Linked DNA regions of Homo sapiens. The protein of the gene in region 3 purifies or fractionates together with the protein of the main gene of each other region. This does not show direct contact. Each region holds a gene or a part of one and is shown on either strand. Other genes may lie near its edges.

Region 1 (7,023 bases), on a different chromosome or scaffold from region 3:
CGGTGAAACCCTGTCTCTACTAAAAATACAAAAATTAGCTGGGTGTGGTGGCAGGTGCCTGTAATCCCAGCTACTCTGGAGGCCGAGGCAGAATGGCTTGAGTCCAAGAGGCGGAGGTTACAGTGAGCCCAGATTGCGCCACTGCACTCCAGCCTGGGTGACTGAGCGAGACTCTGCCTCAAAAAAAAAAAAAAAAAAAATATATATATATATATATATATGTATATATATGTGTGTGTGTATATATATATAAAATATTTATTGAATGACTGAATACTGGAGAAAATATACAGAAATGAATTTCTCTTTTAGAATATTAGACAGGGAAGGGGCACACATACAATGGTATAAAAGAGCTGAATATTTATAAAATTAAAGATTTCCTAACTTCAGGCTTGACTTGAACGCTGGTTATGCTTTTGCTACATATTAAGAAATTTCCCCAACAATTTAAAACATTGTTTTTATACAAAGTTATATATTTCTACAAAATAAGACAAACCATCTATGTGTATATAGCTATGTAATGTGTATCTGCATATATGTTACACATGCATACATACGTGTTTGTGTGTGTGTGTGTGTAATACATTATTATCCCAGTATTTGGATCATGTGAATATTGTTTTGATTTCAGTTCAGTAAACATTAACTTGGTGAAGAGTCACTGGTGGTAATATTGACCCTGTTTTATAATAATCAGCATTTCTTAGTATCATAGCTGATAGCTGAATTTCAGATAAATATTTGTTTTCCAAGACAGAGTCAACAGAATATGCACCAAACTTGGTTAAGAAAGTGGGATTACCTTATTCTGGTTCAATCCTGGCTTTGCTATTTCATTTGGCATCACTTCACCTTCTAAGCCTCAGTTTCCTCATCTGTACAATGGGGACAATCCATAAGACCTACCTCATAGGGCTGTTGTGAGGATTAAATAAGTGTGAATGCATACAGTACATAGTAAGAACTTAATAAATGTTAGCTGCTACAAATTAAGCATTACAATCTCAGGATCATTCATGAAAGCTATTCTTTCTTTTTTTCTTATTTTTATTTTTATTTTTTTTTGAGACAGTGTCTTGCTCTAGTTGCTCTAGTGCCCAGGCTGGAGTGCAGTGGTGCCATCTCAGCTCAACACAATCTTCACCTTCCGGGCTCAGGTGATCCTCCTGCCTCAGCCTCCCAAGTAGCTGGGACCACAGCTGCACACCACATGCCCAGGTAATTTTTAAATTTTTTTGTAGAGACAGGGTCTCACTACATTGCCCAGGCTGGTCTCGAACTCCTGAGCTCAAGAAATCCACCTGCCTCAGCCTTCCAAAGAGCTGGGATTACAGGTGTGAGCCACCATGCCCAGCTGGTGAAAGGTATTCTTGAAGTTTCTTAATACATCACTGTGCTTTTACACGATACGTGAGTTCACAAAAGTGCCTGGAAAGATTATAAAGGACTGTCATGGAAGTGCTAAGGTGCTTTACCAGTGCTTTAAAATCCCCTAATCAAACACTAATATTTAAGGGTACATACTCTCTGCCAGGCCCTGTGACAATCTTACCTCATTTTTAAAACAACCCCACAGATGCAGGTTCTACTATCACTTTCATTTTTATAGCAGAAGAAACTAAGAGCCCAACTTGGTCACAGTGAGTGAAGGAACATGGCTCTGAATCATGCCTGTCTGTCTCCCCAGGTCTGTGCTTAAAACCACGAAGTTCAAGATGGAAACTGAAGGGAAGAGTGTCAAGGGGATGGGAGAGAGGACTTGTCCATGACTTTGGCAGCATAAGGAAAAAATACCCAGGGACAAGTGGCGACTTTGGAAACTCCATTCCTCTGCAAAATGACATCACGAGGAGAGTGGTGGGGCCTGCGGATGAAAAGATCTGGCTTCTCCTCCCAACTCTGCTATGAGGTCAGCTATGGGGCCACACTTCCTATCTACGGAATGGGGGCACTGGACAGGATAAGTATCGAGGACTTTCAGCCCTGGGATAATAAGCTCTTTAAACCTGCTCCAGTTCCAGAGGAAGCCGACCTGAGCAACAGGTCTCAGTCATTTGGGGTCAGCAGTGGGGGAGGGGGTACTCAGTTCTGAAGCCTGGAGCCCTTGGGAGGGTGAATAAGAGGGAAATGGGGGCCCTGACAGGATTGGGGACCCAGGCAATCGAGGAGTCCTAACAAGAACGGAGGGCTTTAACAGGACCAAGCAACCTTAACAGGTTAAAGGGGCCCTGACCAATTTAGAGACCCTTGCAAAACAAGGGCCTTTACTCACACTAACAACATCAGGGACCCAGACAGAAGTGGCGATCCATATTAGACTAGAGGGCGGGCTAACAGGAATAGGGGGCGGTACTAACAAAACGCGGGGCTCGCAGGCCCGGGGCACTTATAGGACTAGAAGAACCGTGCCAAGGTTGGGGAACCCTGGCAGTCCAGAAACTGATATGATTGGGGGACCCAGAAGGACTGGGGGTATACTAGAAGGATTGAGGGGTCTTGGCAGGCCTAGGAGGCACTGAAAGGACTGAGGGCACTGACAGAATTAGGGGCCTTGACAAGACTGGAGTGCCCCGGGTGTCCTGGGAACAATGACAGGAGGGGGAGGGACTGACAGACCTGGGGAGTGCAGACAGAATTGGTGTTGCCGAAGGACTGGAGCCCGTCAGTCCTCCCACCTACGGGCCCAGGCCTCCAACCCTAAAGGACGCAGAACCTTCCAGAATGCCCGCGCGGGCCCTGGAGACCCCAACTAGGGCATGAAAAAGCCGTCACGGGCCCAAGCTGGGGACCCTGGTCCCGGCCTCTTCGGCAGCCCCGCCCCCCAAAATCTCACCTGACGGCCGCCCCGGTCCGCAGGAAGCGCTGGATGGCCCTGTCGGCCGCGGTCATCGCCGCCTCGGCCCGGGAGCTCAGCATTGCAGCCGCACCGGAGGCCTGAAACCGTCTCCTCCGCTACCGCCGCCGCCGCCGCCGGACCGAGGGATACGACGGTTCCCGAGACAGCGGAACCTGCGGCCGCAGTCCCAGCACCTCGGGGGAACGTAGACCGCAGGACAGCTCCCAGGGGGACCGGAAGTAGCTGCCCCCGGAGAGCAATAGCTGACGGACCACGTCCTTTCTTTCTTTTCCCTTAGCAACAGGCCCCGGCGTCGGTTGCTACGCTGGGCTCAGTTGCCTGGGGCTGCTTGGTTTTCAGATTTGCTTAGGCTCCATTCATAAATACAGATGGCACACTTCTAGGATGGACCCTGGGTCATGATTTGAATTTTTCGATGTGGGGAAGGGAGGCCAACAGCCGAAAGTCGGGTCAGGCCTCTGCTATAATTAGTTATTATTGTGGCCAGAGTGGAAATAGGTCGCAGAGGAAGGAACTTTAATGAGCATGAGGCCCATCTCTGACGATATCAGTAGAGAAATCAACGTCTTTAATAGCCAACAAACTTATTGTTTACTTGGGTGCCAGGTATAGAGCTAAGTATGTTACATTCATTATTTACATTTAATATTCACACCAACTCTAACATTACCCACATTTTACATCCCAGGGAACCCAGGAAATTTGAAGAAATAGTAAGTTTTTTGACGCAGCTTGTAAGTGGTGAAACAGAGATTGGCAGTTCGGTCTGTCTGTCTCCAGAATGGCACTCTCCAACAGAAATATACAGGAGCCACATAGGTAATTTTACATTTTCCAGTAGCCACATTAAAGTGAAAAGCAGGAGGTAGGCCAGACGCCGTGGCTCACGCCTGTAATCCCAGCACTTTGGGAGAACGAGGCTGGTGGATCACCTGAGGTCAAGAGTTCGAGACCAGCTTGGCCAACATGGTGAAACCCCATCTCTACTAAAAATACAAAAATTAGCCGGGCGTGGTGGCAGGCTCCTGTAATTCCAGCTACTCAGGAGGCTGAGGCAGGAGAATTGCTTGAACCGTGGTGGTGGAGGTTGCACTGAGCCAAGATCATGCCACTGCATTCCAGCCTGGGTGACAGAACCAGACTCCATCTCAAAAAAAAAAAAAAAGAGGTCAGGTGCGATGGCTCATACTTGTAATCCCAGCACTTTGGGAGGCCGGGGGGTGGGGGTGGGGGGCACGGATTGCTTGAGGTCAGGAGTTCGAGACCAGCATGGCCAATATGGTGAAACCCCGTCTCTACTAAAAAATACAAAAATCAGCCAGGTGTGGTGGCGCGTGCCTGTAATCCCAGCTACTCGGGAGGCTGAGGCGGGAGAATCGCTAGAACCTGGGAGGCGGAGGCTGCAGTGAGCTGAGATCACACCACTGCACTCCAGCCTGGGCAACAGAGAGAGATTCAGCATCAAAAAAAAAAAAAAAAAAAAAAAAAGCAAGAGGTAAAATTAATTTTAACCATATTTTTTCCTTGACCCAATATGTTCAAAATATTGGGGCAGGTGCAGTGGCTTATGCCTATAATCCCAGCACTTTGGGAGGCCAGGTGAGAGGATGGCTTCAGGCCCAGAGTCCAAGGCCACCTGGGCAACATAGCAAGAACCCATGGCTACCGAAAAACAAAGAAAAGAAAAACAAAATATGTCATTTCTATGTGAAAATTATTGATGAGATAATTTACATTCTTTTTTTTTTGAGATGGAGTCTTGCTCTGCCGCCCAGGCTGCAGTGCAATGGCACGATCTCGCCTCTCAGGTTCAAGCGATTATCCTGCCTCAGCCTCCTGAGTAGCTGGGATTACAGGTGCACACCACCACGCCCGGCTAATTTTTTTGTATTTTTAGTAGAGACGGGGTTTCACCATGTTGGTCAGGCTGCTTGAACTCCTGACCTCGTGATCCATCCGCCTCGGGCTCCCAAAGTGTTGGGATTACAGGTGTGAGCCACCGCGCCCGGCCCATTATTTTTTTGTTTTTTGGTACTAAGTACCTCTCAGTTTGGAGTACCCACTTTTCATGTGCTCAATAGCCCCAAGTGGCCAGCAGCTACCGTATTGGACAGCACAGTTTATAAAGCATTAGAGCCAGCAAGATTTTTCCCTCCCTTTCAATCGCTTTCTCCGACTCCAGACTGAGTAATTGCATTCATGCTGGGGGTGGTGTCGCATACCTGTAGCCCCAACTACAGAAACAAAACAAAAGAAATCAATGCATTAGATCAGTAGTTCTCAAAGTTTTTGTTCTCCGGATCTCTTTGTACGCTTAAAAAGGATTGAGGGATTTTGTTTATATCTAACTGTACTCTGTTAGAAATTAAAATTGAGAATTTTTGTTTCCTTAAAATTGAGGTATATAGGTATATCTTGTTTTTTTGTTGTTGTTGTTTGTTTTTGAGATGGAGGCTCGCTCTGTGGCCCAGGCTGGAGTGCAGTGGCGTGATCTCAGCTCACTGCAAGCTCCGCCTCCCGGGTTCAAGTGATTCTCCTGTCTCAGCCTCCCGAGTAGCTGGGACTACAGGCTCCCGCCACCACGCCCAGTTAATTTTTGTATTTTTAGTAGAGACAGGGTTTCACCATATTGGCCAGGCTGCTCTTGAACTCCTGACCTTGTGATCCACCCACCTTGGCCTCCCAAAGTTCTGGGATTACAGGTGTGAGCCACCGTGCCCCGCCCGGCATATCTTGTTTTATTGCACTTCACTTTATTGTGCTTCGAAGATACTGCATTTTTACAAGTTCAAGGTTTGTGGCTACCTGACTACAGCAAGTCTATTGGCACCATTTTCAACAGCATGTGCTCACTTCGTGTCTCTGTACCACATCCTGGTAATTCTTGTAATATTTCAAACTTTTTTTTTTCTTTTCTTTTTTGCAATAATGCCTCACTCTGTCATGCAGGCTGGAGTGCAGTGGCGCAATCTTGGCTCACTGCAACCTCCACCTCCTGGGGTTCAAGCGATTTTCGTGCCTCAGCCACCCAAATAGCTGGAATTACAGGCACGCGCCACCATGCCTGGCTAATTTTAGCGTTTTTAGTAGAGATGGGGTTCCACTGTGTTGGCCAGGCTGGTTTCGAACTCCTGACCTCAGGAGATATGCTTGCCCTGGCCTCCCAAAGTGCTGGGATTACAGGCGTGAGCCACCGTGCCTGGTCCCAAAGTTTTTCATTATTATTACACCTATTAAGGTGATCTGTGATCAGTGATCCTTAATGTTACTATTGTAATTGTTTTGGGGTGCCACAAACAGCATTCAGGTAAACCAGCCAACTTAATCGGTATTGTGTATGTTCCAAGTGCTCCACTGACTGGCTGTTCCCCCCTCTCTCTCACTCTTCTCAGGTCTCCCTAGCCTGTAAGACACAACAATATTGAATTTCAGTCCACGCCTCTAAATGTTCGAGGGATAGGAAGAGTCGCACATCTCTCACTTTAAATCAAAAGCTAGAAATGATTAAGCTCAGTGAGGAAGGTGTGTCAAAAGTCAGGATAGGCTGAAAGCAAGACTTCTTGCACCAAACATTTAGTCAAGTTGTGAATTCAAAGGAAAATTTCCTGAAGGAAATTAAAAGTGCTACTCCAGTGAGCAGAATGTAAACTAAAAATCCTAAGCCCCGCCAACTGACTGAATGGGCCCCCTCTTGGCCAAGGGGACCTTCAAGAAACCTTAAACACTGAGTTCCCAGCCATAATGAGATGAGAGGTCAGACATGCCTCCTTATACCCTCTTCCTTAGAAGTTTAGACACAACAGCTGACCAGCCTTAATGTTGAAACAGTGATCATAAGACAGACAGAATGGACTGTTTGTGGCAATAAGATACCAAATTATAAACAGGATCTAAGGTCATGCCAAGCAAGGATTGCGTTACACACCCCTGCACTTAAAGAATAAACTGTTTTACATCCGGTTTTTCTTTTTCTTTCTTTTTTTGTTTTTTTTTTTTTTGAGACAGAGTCTCACTCTGTTGCCCAGGCTGGAGTGCAGTAGGGCGATCTTGGCTCACTACAACCTCCACCTCCCAGGTTCAAGCCATTCTCCTGCCTTAGCCTCCTGAGTAGCTGGGACTTCAGGTGCGTGCCACCACGCCTGGCTAATTTTTGTATTTTT
Region 2 (7,160 bases), on a different chromosome or scaffold from region 3:
TACCAAATAAAAGGAATTGAGGAAATAGGAATAGTGGAGTCAGGTAGGCAGCTGAGGTGCTGGACACAGCAGAGGAAGGGAAGAGGGGGAAGGAGGAGGTGATGGGATATTGTGACCATTCCTCAGGAATTAAAAAAGTTGGCATGAGCTGTTGCTAGACCAGTTGATAATCAAGAGGAAAGATTGCTATGATAACATTTCGATTCAAATTTAAACATGGAACCACATTTAATACTTAGTTGAACTTTCCATTATAAATGAATTTAATCAGAAAAAGCCTATGCTCAGTTGATGAAAACATGAATTTCTGCCTTACAGCACATCATTGTCAACAAACATATTGAAGGTCTAATGAACTTGGAGTAGTCAGCTGTTTCTGACAGAGGCACCAAGAAAAATGTATGAGGTCTCTGTCTGTCCTGATCACTTCCAAACACTAATGTTCTATATGAATCTATCAATTAAAGATTTATCTGAAAAATCTTAAAGCTTTTCTTAAAATATAATCTCAGCCTATTAAAGTAACAAAGACTTAACTACATAGCATGTCAAATACCTCTATCTTTACTTTCTTAATCTTTGAAGCTTTAATAGCTATACTATAATTGCCAAGGTTTGTCAGTAGCTGGATTCATAGCTATGATTTCAGAGACTTTAGACATACCTCCTTCCCCCATGCCAACCTTTGTCTTTCCAGTTTGAAATTTTTTTAAAGGCATATGGAAGTGTTCTCAGCCTGTTCCATTGTTGTATGAAAAATAAGAAGGCAGAGAGGTGTCTTAGAAATCCTGCCAAGGAAGCAGCCCCACGTTTGAGCAGAGTTCAAGGCTGGATCCACATACCTGCGTTGTGAAGCAACTCGTCTGCCTGCTTTGTTGGGATCTATGCCTCCTTGGCTGAAAGCAGTGATGACTGTGGTTAAGGCGGAAGGTGTATTTACTGTCAGAAGACTATCAGTTCTTTCCCTGTTTCTTATGGAGTCTGGTGTATGATTCCTGGTATTTATTATCTCTTTATCGTTCCTTACAGCATAAGAACCCAGGTATTTGTAATCCTAACTGCTGTTGCGTTATGAGACTTAACTTTATGAGGTGTAAAAGGGTCACATGAAATTACATAGCAGTGTGCTGACACCATCTTGGTTTAGTTTTGTCTTAAGCACACTGCCTCCTACTGACTTCCATGGCTGCCAGTGTCTCATTTTGGAGAGGAGGCTACGCTGGAGAATGGAACTATATTTTGAGTCAAGATTCTGGGGTTCTAATCCTGGCTTTAAGGAAAAAAGCCATGTGGTATATTGGAAAGCCCATGGGCATAGAAACAAAAGGGTTCTGGGTTTGCAGCTCCCTCTATCAATTGCTAGCTGTGACTTTCAACACATTACTTAACCTCTAATCCTTATTTTGTTTTTAAAATGGCAATAGGAGTGTCTGTGTCACAAGGTTGTTGCGTTTGAAAGAAATGATGCATGTTAATATGCTTGAAATCCAGCGGGCCCTCAATAAATTACAGCTATTGTTCCCTGAGCCCCCTGTTAATCTTCATTGTAGGGAAATAAGTGAGTTGAGCTGCTGCATCAGCATTTTTTTCCAGCTCTAAGCCTTTAAGGTTTAAAATAATCTGACCCCTCCATACACCTACACCTGCTCTGATTTAGAAAATGTAATACTGTGGTAGAATTCCAAATCAGAAATAATTGCTGACATTTACTGATCATATCTTGTATGCCAGAGACTGTGCAAAGGGCTTTACATACGTTATCTCATGTAATCATCATAAATAACTCTTCGAGGTGTAGGTATTATTATTTCACAGAAGTACCAGATAAGACAGAGAAGTAACTTATCCACTGCTAATAAAATGCCAAGCCTAGTAAGTGTGGCCCGATAGTGTGTGCTATTGATGCTCACCTGATAGAGGATGGCAGGTTTGGGCAGAGAGAAAAGTTGGGTGGCAGTGCAGTCATCACACAACCAATAGGATGGGGAGCTCTGGAGCTGGGATGGCCAAGCAAAGTAGCCCTACATTGGTTTAGGGGATTTTATACCCGTTTCAACCAGTTACTTGACTAGCTGTTGCCTAGAAAGGGGGTATACCCGTGGGGAGAGGTGCTTCTCTTTGGCAGTACTCAGCAGCTGGAGGAATGCCTGCTTAGGTCTTGAAGAGGGGGATCTGGGTGGTGTGCCACAGCATCCACTACAGGACCAACAGATTCATATGCCCACTGCACAGTATACACTGAGACAGCAGGGTTTGCAGAAGAGAAAGAGTTTAGTGATGGCAGGGTGCCGAGAGGAGATGGGAGGAAACCCTCAAATTCATCTCTCTGAGGAGTTCTGTGCTGGGGCTTTTAAGGGGATCCTGGAGGGCAATGGGCTGGAAAATTAGGGTCCTCGATTGGCTGGGGTAAGGAGGAATGAAACCATCAGGATGTGGGAACTGCATTCTTTGGTGAGTCAGCTCCTTGTCAGACCAGCTGAGTCAGTAGTTTCATCAGTACGAAGGACCTGAAAGGTTATCTCAAAGCACAAACTTAACGTTTCATAATGTTCAAGTTGTTGTCTATAGAGCAGTTAGGGGAAACTATAACCTTGTAACAGAGTCTACATGATTCTGAAGCAATAGGCAAACAATTATGAGGAAGGGGTCAGACAGCAAGCTGACCTAATTATTAATCCTCAGTGTGCTGCAAGCTTGGTTTAATTTCGTTCCCCCCACCCCTTTTTCCCAGATTAACTTCATAAAGTATATAGGCATGGTTTCAGACACCACTGTAAAGGCATCCTAAAGACAGGGCTGACTCTGACAACCAAGGGACAGATCCCATTTCTTTTCATTTGACGTGACCGCTGTCATGATACTTTACAAAGAATGTGTGTGCCAAACATGAGGGATAGACGAATAAGTACAGGTCACACTGAATCTAAAAAAGACACTTTTCAAGAGGGAACTTCCTCAAGGAGATAGTACCTGAATTGATGGGGCGGCATGGAGATGGCTGATTATTCCAGGCAGAAGGGCCAGTTTGAGCAAAAGCATGGAGGAATGAAACAATAGTATTCTGTTTTCAGAAGCTGTATATATTTGACACAATATACACATAATCAAAACATGTGTACGCCGTAAACACAATTTTTGTCAATTATACCTTAATAAAGAAGGAGGAAAAAGGGCCTTCACTAGCCCAAATGATGCCCCTGTGCGGTTTTTTCTTTAAAGGCACCTCTTCCGTTAAGTGAAAGTTTTAGTATATTATCACATCTGTACAGTTTTATTATTAAACCCCAGTACACAATATTTTAATGTTGAGAGATGGTGTAAACTGAGCTTTAGAGCTGCAAAGACCTGCGTCAAGCCCCCGCCCCCGCCCCCGCCCCCGGGCACTCATCGTCCAGCACAACAATTGCAACAACACCTGGGCGTTCTCTGCCCATGTAGCGAGGTCAAGGTCCTGGGAGCCGAACTCTCCCTTGATGTTCAATCTTTTTAAATCTTTCCCAGCCTTTATTTCTCATCTGCAAAATGACGATAATCGCATTTGAAATTCTCCGTTTTCAAAATGCAGGAATTTATTAAAGGATACGTAGGCTGGGGAAACAAGGGAGACGAAAGATCTAAATCTAAATGGTAGACCAGAAAAAGGAAGGCAAGGGTGTCTGGAAACACAAAACAGTCAACATAGATTTTAAGACTCATCTATACTCTCTTCTTCCCGGGTTTGGGAACTGCGGTTGCTACACAGGTCACATTTGAAATAAAAGTCCTGGGACGGCGGCCGGCGCGACACTCTCCCCCGCACAGCGCAGGCTCTCACTGGGAATCTGCCGGGACCGCAGTTGCCAAGGCGACTCCGCGCTGCAGGGCGAGGCGGCCATCCGTCTGTGCCCGCCCCCTCACGCCGTGGCGCGCTCTCACGCTTCCCCGCCTCCGGGCGCTCCGCGGTGCCGACCATTGGCTGGCTCTGCAGGTCTCACTATCCTCACTCCATCCGCGGAGCCAATGGCTGGGACCGCCAGGAGCTCGTTCGCGCGAGTCACACGATGTCGGCAACTGCACAGACCAATCACCGCGCCGAGAAGGCGGGGCGGGAGCTCTCGCAGGCCAATAACGACAGGACGGGCCGCCTGGCCCACCCGGCTCCACCCCCAAGCCAGGCGAGGCAGGTTCCGAGGTTGGAACACCTGGCGAGTCCTCGGTGTCGGTGGCCGGCAGTCATCTCGCGGCCGTTCAGGTGAGGGGGTTGGAGGAGTGGCTCATGAGCGAGGAAGGGGGAGCAGGCGGGCTCCCACCCGGTGCTCCGTGAGATCGAGGGGAGCGGGTTCTGGGTGCGGATGCACGCGCTGGGCGGGACGCTGGCAGTGGTACCCGAGACGGGGCGGAAGGAGACTGGAGTGAAGGTGGGCCTAGGCTAAGGTACGTGCTAGAAAGGATGAAAACGGAGTGAAATTCTTAAGTGATGGAACTAGGCTAGGGCATGTTTCTTGCCCTTTAAAATGTGTTGTCTTCGGGAGACAGGACGTAGAAGATAGTTGCAGCACAGGGTGATAGGCTGGCGAAAGTTATACAAAAGCAGGAACCACTAGAAGGAGGTAAGATGTAGTGTGCTTTGGGAGTAGTGGGGTTGGGAAGGGCGTCCGAGAGGAGGTTACTGAAGGATGACTAGGAGTTGAATGGGAGGACATCACCTGTAAGGGAACGATATTTCCGTGGGCAGAGAGGAATGAAGCAGTAGCAACCATGAGTGATCAGATACTGCAAAAATGTGAAGTGTAGGATGGCGAGAATGTAAGAAATGAAGAGTGAAGAAGTCTGGAAGGGCCTCGTGTGCATCAATCACAGCGGGGCTTGATCTTTATGCTTAGGGCAAGCACTCCCTTGAACTTTGAGTGTTTTAAGGAGGTTATCTCTGATGTTTAAATTTATATAGATCGTGGCATTGCATCTTAGAAATAAGGTTTAGGAAGGGCAAGCTTGGAGGCAGGGCAAGTCCAGAAAATGAAGGAGCTGGTGAAATCCGTGTTAAAGTGCCAAAGGACAGAGACTGGCTGACAGCTAAACTTCAAGGTTTCTGAGAATCCACAAATAACTAAATTTATCTAGTCAACCTGTTCCAGAACAGGCTTCCAGTCATTTAGGTTGCCCAAGAATGAGTAAAGGAAAAGGAAATTCAATTTTCCAAGACCTTGTTTCCCCTCTCCTCTTTAATTCCTTGTTCGGTTAGCAACAGTATATCCATTCCCTCGCTCCTTTGTGAAAAGTAAATTCCTGAATGTTAACTAAACCAAGTGTTTCTAAATTGGGTAAGAGTTTGAAGACTTAAGGCAGCAGAATGGGAGAGACTTAAAACGTTATGTCTGAGAATTAGGCATTAAAGGAGGCCTAGTATTTGGGCGGGGGTTGTGAGGAGCACATACTGAACCTTTGGACCTGTTGAGTGAGTTCATGTGCCTCTGAACTCTCTGACTGGATATGACCAGTAAACTTGGATAATTAGATCCTGGAGTTTAGGGGAGAGGGCTAGAGATAGAGATGATGGATGTCAGCATATTTTTAAAACAGAAAATAGTTAAGATCACCCAAGACAATCTGGAATCGTTAGAAGGGAGTAAGGAAGGCATTATTGGGAAACTTTCCAGCTTCAATTCTCATATTTTTTCTAATCTCCTGGTTGAGTCTTTGGAGTTGCTGTTCTCTCTATGCAAAACCCCTCCCTTGACCCTCTCTCCCTCACTCTATTTTTTAATTTGTCACCTCCTTCTCCTGTTCTAGGTCTCAGTTTAGATAGCACCTTTCTCTAGAAGTTCATAGCACTGTGTATTCCCCCCTTTATTGTTCTTATCACATAATTTTTGATGGTTTGGACACTAGTTGTTATTCCTCACTAAATTTTATGTTTTATGAACTCAGGGGTAAGGGCACCAGCTAGCACAATGAATGCACAATACTTGTCAGAGTGAATGCATTTAAGTTCCAAGAACCAAGGAAAGGCGGTATTTCAAGAAGAGAAGTATCAAATCTTCCAGATTAGTCAAATAAACTCCAAAAAAAAAAAAAAAGGTTTATTGGATTTGGCAGCTGGAGATCCATAGCGATTTTTTTTTTTTTTTTTTTTTTTTTTTGAGACGGAGTCTCACTCTGTCGCCCAGGCTGGAATGCAGTGTCGTGATCTCTGCTCGCTGCAACCTCAGCCTCCCGGGTTCAAGCAATTCTCCTGCCTCAGCCTCCCCAGTAGGTGGAATTACAGGCATACGCCACCACACCCGGCTAATTTTTTTGTATTTTTTTGGTGGAGATGTTTCACCATATTGGCCAGACTGGTCTGGAACTCCTGACCTTGTGATCCGCCCACCTCAGCCTCCCAAAGTGCTGGGATTACCAGCGTAAGCCACCACACCCAGCCTCCTTAGTGATTTTAGTAAGAGTAAGTTCAGTGCAGTGATGACAATAGAATGCAGATTGCAGTTGCTAGAATATAAACAGGAAATAAGAAGATAAAGACAACTCGTGGAATACCTTTTCATAGAGCTTAGGTAAACTGTAGGAATTATTCTCCTTGTACTCTAATACTTATTATGGGTTTTATTTATAATTATAGTGTAATATAATGGATGAGTGCATGGGCTTCCCCACTTAGCATTTGTTAAGCATTAACTTAACATTAAGCATTAGACTTTGGGCAAGTTGCTTAATCTTTCTAAACCTCAGTTATTTTATCTATAAAATGGTGATAAAATAATACCTACCTCACGAAGGTGTGGTAAGGATTAAAGTGAAAATGTAGAGAGCAGGTAGCATGCTTTGAACACAGTTCTTGGCACAGAAAGTGCCCAATAATTGTTAGTTTCTTGTAGCTATTACATGCCAGGTCCTGTGCTAACTAAGCGCTTTATATGCATTGTCTCTTGGACTCATTGGAAGACCTACTGTTTTAATTTTTGCTGCTGATAAAACTGCATCACAGAGAGGTTACCTAATTTGCCCAAGGTCACAGGACAGGACTAGTAAGTGGTCTTGGTTCATTATTGTCAAATTTACTAATCACCTTGAGAAAAATTAAGATTGGATGGTTGCCTTATTTTACAACTTAGAAGATGATTGAAGACATTTTGGTGCAGGTGGGGAGCCAGATTGCAAGTAGCTCAGTGAGTTGTGTGGGTGAG
Region 3 (6,455 bases):
GTGAATGGCAGCGCTGAGATTTGAATCCCGGCAGTGTCTGTAGGATGAGGTTCTCCTGAGTTACTCTGCCTTTGCCGAACGTCTCTGTGCTCAGATGACCCCCCCTCAGCCCCTCTTCTGTGTGCGATTCTGGGGCTGCCCCGGCCTCAGGAGGGTGCTGGCCGTGCTGCCAGGGGGGTCCTTGGGCCGCGATTCCTGGGGGCGCTGGCTTCTCTGCAGACGAGGCTCAGCCTGCGTGGGGAGGGCGTCTGGCTGGGTGGGGGACCTGTCTCGGGCCTGCTCTGCGTCTGCCTTGCAGAGTACCTGTGCGGTGAGCAGGTGCCTGGCCCTTTCTGTGCCTTGTTTTCCCTTTTTTCCCCTCCCAGTGGGGGCTGGACACCTCCTGCTGTCAGACTGGGGTTCTGTGACTCTCTTGCAAACCACACCCCAGGTACTCACTGACCTTGGTGGCCTTTCTCCTGGCCCAGCTTTCATTCCTTGCTGACTCAGGAATTGGCAGCGTTCAGCTGGGAGCTGGGCCTGGGCAGGGAAGGAGCAAGAAATAGACTGGGCTGGAGAAGAGTGAGGAGAGAGAGAGGCAGGGGCTGCAGCAGTGGGGCAAGGAGGCTGGAGGCTAGGGGTCCGTATGGGGTAGACCCAGAGCCTGGCAGCCCTCCTGTGCTCCCTGAGCTGACTCTTACTTCCTGGGTGCTCACTTGAGCTCCCATTCTGAGCAAGCGGGAAGCCCGACGGCCTGGCTTGTCTTGGCTGAGCCTCGCTGAGGCTTGTGGGAGGCTGTGGACTCACAGGCCCACGCTCCAGCTGCCACCGCAATTGCTGCTACTCCTTGCCGGGGCAACTCCAGAGGCTTCTGCCTGAGCATCTATGCGTGCTGGGCTTCCGCAGGAACCCTGGCAGGCTGTGCTCTCTCTGAATGCTCTGCCTGCCTGCAGTGCTGCCAGGAGCGTTGCTGCCTCTGGTGAGGCTGGCCCACCCACCGGCTCCCGACAGTCCTCTCTGCCCTGTGCGCCCCCTCCCGCCCACACACAGGTCTGGCCATTTGCAGAATGCACAGGTGAATTTGGAGCAGCTGCAGACAGTGGAGATGTAGCCAGGGCTGCTGGCTACCAGCAGTGTCGCTGAAAACTTTGGGGCCAGAACAACCCGCAGCTCTGAACTGGGTAGAGGAGTCTGTGCCTGCATGAGACAGGGGCTTCCAGGCACAGCCATCTCTCCTGAACTTTGGGATCTTGCTGCAAGCTTTTTGCTGAGTGAGGAGGGGAGCCTCCCAATGGTCAGAGGGGCTCGGACCTAGAAGAGGAGTCCCTGGAGCAGGTGTCCAGGGAAAGGGACAGGCCAGGGTGCTGAGCGGAAGTGGAGTGTTTGGATTTTCCCTCAACCTGGCTGCACCTTCACTCATTCATATGAGCTGTAAACATGTATTGACGCATGCTGTGTGCTGGGCCCACCAAGAGGTGCTTAAATGAGATGCTGACCTAACCTCAGGGAGAGGGGCCCGCGTGTAATTCCTCCAAAGCCAACAGAGACATCACAGCCAGGCCCAGCCACTCCAGCTGGCCTTCCTCTAGCCTCTAGCAGGGTTTCCGAAATCCCTGCCGAGAATGATGGTTGCTCAGAGAAAGCTCTTGGACAACACCCAAGGGGACATTTGGGCTTGCCCCAAGGATAAAATTTAAAGGTGGCCATGGAGGCAACCAGGAAAGGACTGGAGCAGTCAGGAGGCAGCTGGCTCTTAGTGGGGAAGCCAGCTCCTGGGGAGTCTAGGTAAGATGGGGAAGGGGAGGCAAGAGGCCTCTGCTCCATCTGACTCCACCAGCCTCGGGACGCCCGGGGAATATGGACCTGCCCAGATGGGAGATACAGTCGCCTTGACCCTGCCGAGCTCCTGCCCTCCCCACCCCTCCTCAGAGGCTGGGCCTGAAGTGCTAATGAGATCAAGGATGGCGCCACTCAGCAGGTGTAAACGGGCTGAGTTAGGGAGGCCCTCATTCCCCTCCCTCCGTCCCCACCTGTCTTATGCCACGGCCACACCCACCTACCGCACCCTCAGCTGCTCTCTGCCTCCATCGCTGTAGGGCCTTGCTTTTTATTTATTTATTTTTTTGAAATAGAGTCTCGCTCTGTCACCCAGGCTGGAGTGCAGTGGCGTGATCTTGGCTTACTGGAACCTCCGCCTCCCAGGTTCAATCGATTCTCCTGTCTCAGCCTCCTAAGTAGCTGGGATTACAGGTGCCCACCACCATGCCCGGCTAATTTTTGTAGTTTTAGCAGAGATGGGGTTTCACCATGTTGGCCAGGCTGGTCTCCAACTCCTGACTTCAGGTGATCCGCCAGCCTTGGCCTCCCAAAGTGCTGGGATTACATGCGTGAGCCACCAAACCCGGCCAAGCCTTGCTATTTAAAGTGGGGTCCAGGGACCGGAGCCTGCTAGAAATGCAGGTCCCAGCTCCCCCGCCCCCCACCCAAATCAGAACCTGTGTTTCAACAAGATTCCAAGGTGATCTGTGTGCACAGTGACATTTAAGAAGCCCTGGTTCTCAGGGGAAAAAGGCCAGCTTTGGTGGATGGAGCCAATTTCTAGGTCAGACTTACACGCATGCTGCCTAGAGACCAAGAGGCTTCCTCCCCCACCCTGAAAGCAGCAGTATGCTCAGCTGATTTAAGTTACAATATTTTGACTGGGTAATACTTACATGATTCAAAGTTTAGAAGGTGCAAAGGATAGTCAGTGAAAAGCAACCTCCGTCCTCCCGGTTCCCCAGAGGCAGCCAGTGTTACTAATGCAGGAGGCTCCCTGATTTTGCCGAAAACTCGTGTGGTTTCTTACACATTCACTCAGGTAATGAACTTCTCCTGACGCTGGCGCTTAAGACCCAGTCTCCCCTGTCAAAAATGGACATGAAGTACGTTTCGATGTTGGGCTTGGGAGCTGACTAGCTCTCTTCTCCTACCCCGTTGTATGTGAGTTGTCTCCCCGTAAACCCAAGGTGAGAAACCTGGAGCTCAGCCCTCGCCATTGCCCGAGCCACCTGGCAGAAAAGTGCTCCAGCGCCGCCCTCACTCAACCAGTCCCAGTGCTGTCTGGGCGGCTCCCTGGAAGCATCCTCTTTGGAGGGGTTCTCTCTGCACACAGAAAGGCGGGGGTGGTGAGAGCATCCCTCCACTGAGGCTTTGGAGAGGGATGTCAGGGGCCCAGGGACATGGTCTCCAGAACAGGAACCCTCCTAGAGCAAAGCAACTTCCTCGCTTTGGGTTTTCTGGGAAGGGAACCTGCAACAAGCCTATACTGCTCTCTGATTAGAAAGTAAAGATCCAGGCTGGGCGCAGTGGCTCACACCTGTAATCCCAGCACTTTGGGAGGCCGAGGCGGGTGGATCACGAGGTCAGGAGTTCGAGACCAGCCTGGCCAATATGGCAAAACCCCATCTCTACTAAAAATACAAAAATTAGCCGGGCATGGTGTCCACATGCCTGTAGTCCCAGCTACTCGGGAGGCGGAGGCAGGAGAATCGCTTGAACCTGGGAGGCAGAGGTTGCAGTGAGCTGAGATCATACCACTGCACTCTGGCCTGGGCGACAGTGAGACTCAGTCTCAAAAAAAAAAAAAGAAAGTGAAGATCCAGGTGATCCACTTAGGTGTGTCACTTCTTCACTGACGCAAAGCCTTGCATTTTTATAACTTGGTGACTTTTAGGTTTGGGAGGAAGCAAAAAAGGCAGGGGTCATGGCTGCTGATTTTAACCAGACTTCGAAATGGCTGGCAGAAGCCACAGAACCTGAGGATAGTCATACTATTTGTTTCATATTGCAACAAAAATGTCTTCCTAGCCGGGCACGGTGGCTCACGCCTGTAATCCTAGCACTTTGGGAGGCCGAGGCGGGCAGATTGCCTGAGTTCAGGAGTTTGAGAACAGCCTGGGCAACATGGTGAAACCCTGTCTCTACTAAAATACAAAAAAATAGCTGGGCGTGGCGGCGTGCACTTGTAGTCCCAGCTACTCAGGAGGCTGAGGCAGGAGAATTGCTTGAACCCGGGAGACGGAGGTTGCAGTGATCCAAGATCGTGCCACTGCACTCCAGCCTGGGCGACGGAGCGAGACTCCGTCTCTAGAAAAAGGAAAATGTCTTCCTACAGTTAGTCATTCCTTCAGCCAGGAAATATTTATGGAGTCCCTGTGACATGTCAGGTGTTGGACCAGATGCTGCTGAGACAGAGATGAGCAACACAGACACGATCCCTGCCCCCGAGGGTTTCCAGTCTAATGGGGCATTGAACCCTTACCAAATGATCACACCCGTCATCACAGACGGAATGGGGTGTCGGAGAGGTCAGCGAGTAGTAGCCAGAGAAGGTTTCCCCAAGGAAGTGACCTATGAGTTGAAATCTGAAAGGTTATAGCAGCCTAACTAGGTGAGGGGGAAGCATTCCAGGTAAGAGAAGCACAGGTGTGAAGAGACGCTTTGATATGGGAAGGAGCAACGGAGAACCTGGGTGAAGGCGGCAGACAGGAGCCAGGTTTGGTGAGGCTTTTGTTTAATGAAGTTGACGGTCTTTAGCTGCAAGGTTGCCCCTTTAGACTTTGCTTCCTTAGAGGATTTAACCTCATTGTTTCTTCAAGGCCGGCCAAGCCTTCCAGTGACCTCTTGACTGCCCATCAGGGGCCCCGTGCTCAGAAGAGCCAGGGATCGCCTGACAGCTTCCAGACAGTGTCACACTCTTCCAGTTTCCTTGCTTTTTGCACAGCCCCCAGCTCCCACCATTTTTCTGCATAATCTTGGTGCAAGAGTGGGAGCTCATTACTCTGATGGAAACTGGCTTTTTTTTTTGTATTTTTTTTTTTTAATTTTTTGAGACGGAGTCTCGCTTTATCGCCCAGGCTGGATGGGAGTGCCGTGGCGCGATCTCGGCTCACTGCAAGCTCCGCCTCCCGGGTTCACGCCATTCCCCTGCCTGAGCCTCCCGAGTAGCTGGGACTACAGGCGCTCGCCTCGCCCGGCTAATTTTTTGTATTTTTAGTAGAGACGGGGTTTCACTGTGTTAATCAGGATGGTCTCGATCTCCTGACCTCGTGATCCGCCCACCTCGGCCTCCCAAAGTGCTGCGATTACAGGCATGGGCATGAGCCACCGCGCCTGGCCGGAAACTGGCTTTTAAATGGGGAGAAGTGAAGCATGAACTGTAGCTCTTTTCAGACTTGGGAAGGCCCTTCTCCCTGGGCACTGGTTGCCTCACTGGGAAGATGAGAGTGCCAGCCTCTCAAGAGCTCCTTTCTGTTCTGATATTCCAGGAGCACGTGAATTGCCTCTGCTTACGTTCAGGCCCTGTCCTAAACCCAGCCGTCTAGCACCCAGTGATCCCATGCCTTTGGGAATCCCAGGATGCTGCCCAACGGGAAATTTGTACATTGGGTGCTATCAATGCCACATCACAGGGACCAGCCATCACAGAGCAAAGTGACCTCCACGTCTGATGCTGGGGTCATCAGGACGGACCCATCATGGCTGTCTTTTTGCCCCACCCCCTGCCGTCAGTTCTTCCTTTCTCCGTGGCTGGCTTCCCGCACTAGGGAACGGGTTGTAAATGGGGAACATGACTTCCTTCCGGAGTCCTTGAGCACCTCAGCTAAGGACCGCAGTGCCCTGTAGAGTTCCTAGATTACCTCACTGGGAATAGCATTGTGCGTGTCCGGAAAAGGGCTCCATTTGGTTCCAGCCCACTCCCCTCTGCAAGTGCCGCAGCTTCCCTCAGAGCATACTCTCCAGTGGATCCAAGTACTCTCTCTCCTAAAGACACCACCTTCCTGCCAGCTGTTTGCCCTTAGGCCAGTACACAGAATTAAAGTGGGGGAGATGGCAGACGCTTTCTGGGACCTGCCCAAGATATGTATTCTCTGACACTCTTATTTGGTCATAAAACAATAAATGGTGTCAATTTCAAACGTGTCCTGATTTTTTTCTCTTCATGTTTACCCATCTTTTTTTTTGAGATGGAGTCTCGCTCTGTAGCCCAGGCTGGAGTGCAGTGGCACGACCTCGGCTCATTGCAGCTTCTGCCTCCCAGGCTCAAGTGATTCTTCTGCCTCAGCCTCCTGAGTAGCGGGGATTACAGGCGTGCACCACCATGCACGGCTAATTTTTTTTGTATTTTTAGTAGAGACGGGGTTTCACCATGTTGGTCAGGCTGGTCTTGAACTCCTGACCTTGTGATCCGCCCACCTCAGCCTCCCAAAGTACTGGGATTACAGGCAACAGCCACCGCACCTGGCCCATTTTTACCCGTATTTTAAAGGAAAATGTAAGAAGGCAAGATCAAAAGAGGCAGACACAAGAAACAATTAGTAAGCAATATATTCCTCATCTTGCAAAGAAATTCAAATTATGGAAATGCTTTAAATGAGCAACTATTAAAATTATAGACTAGGAAGGAACTGATAAAACTGGTACTTTTCATTCAA

What was found. Proteins that work in one complex are often made in the same cells at the same time.
Region 1: the proteins of P2RX5 (region 3) and USP30 purify together in Homo sapiens (affinity purification with mass spectrometry; 2 studies listed by BioGRID and IntAct, with this or other methods). This does not show direct contact.
Region 2: the proteins of P2RX5 (region 3) and MSMO1 purify together in Homo sapiens (affinity purification with mass spectrometry; 2 studies listed by BioGRID and IntAct, with this or other methods). This does not show direct contact.

The regions. Positions count from the first base shown.
Region 1 is NC_000012.12:109,048,578-109,055,600, reverse strand, and holds the start of USP30 (ubiquitin carboxyl-terminal hydrolase 30), read right to left. Parts: upstream 3,026-7,023; 5' UTR 2,923-3,025; coding exon 2,840-2,922; intron 2,820-2,839; exon of another isoform or gene 1,564-2,819; coding exon of another isoform or gene 1,559-1,563; intron 1,096-1,558; exon of another isoform or gene 809-1,095; intron 1-808. UniProt on the Homo sapiens protein: Deubiquitinating enzyme tethered to the mitochondrial outer membrane that acts as a key inhibitor of mitophagy by counteracting the action of parkin (PRKN): hydrolyzes ubiquitin attached by parkin on target proteins, such as RHOT1/MIRO1 and TOMM20, thereby blocking parkin's ability to drive mitophagy.
Region 2 is NC_000004.12:165,323,534-165,330,693, forward strand, and holds the start of MSMO1 (methylsterol monooxygenase 1), read left to right. Parts: upstream 1-4,135; 5' UTR 4,136-4,231; exon of another isoform or gene 4,232-4,413; intron 4,414-7,160. UniProt on the Homo sapiens protein: Catalyzes the three-step monooxygenation required for the demethylation of 4,4-dimethyl and 4alpha-methylsterols, which can be subsequently metabolized to cholesterol.
Region 3 is NC_000017.11:3,672,711-3,679,165, reverse strand, and holds the end of P2RX5 (P2X purinoceptor 5), read left to right. Parts: intron 1-5,288; coding exon 5,289-5,298; 3' UTR 5,299-5,939; downstream 5,940-6,455.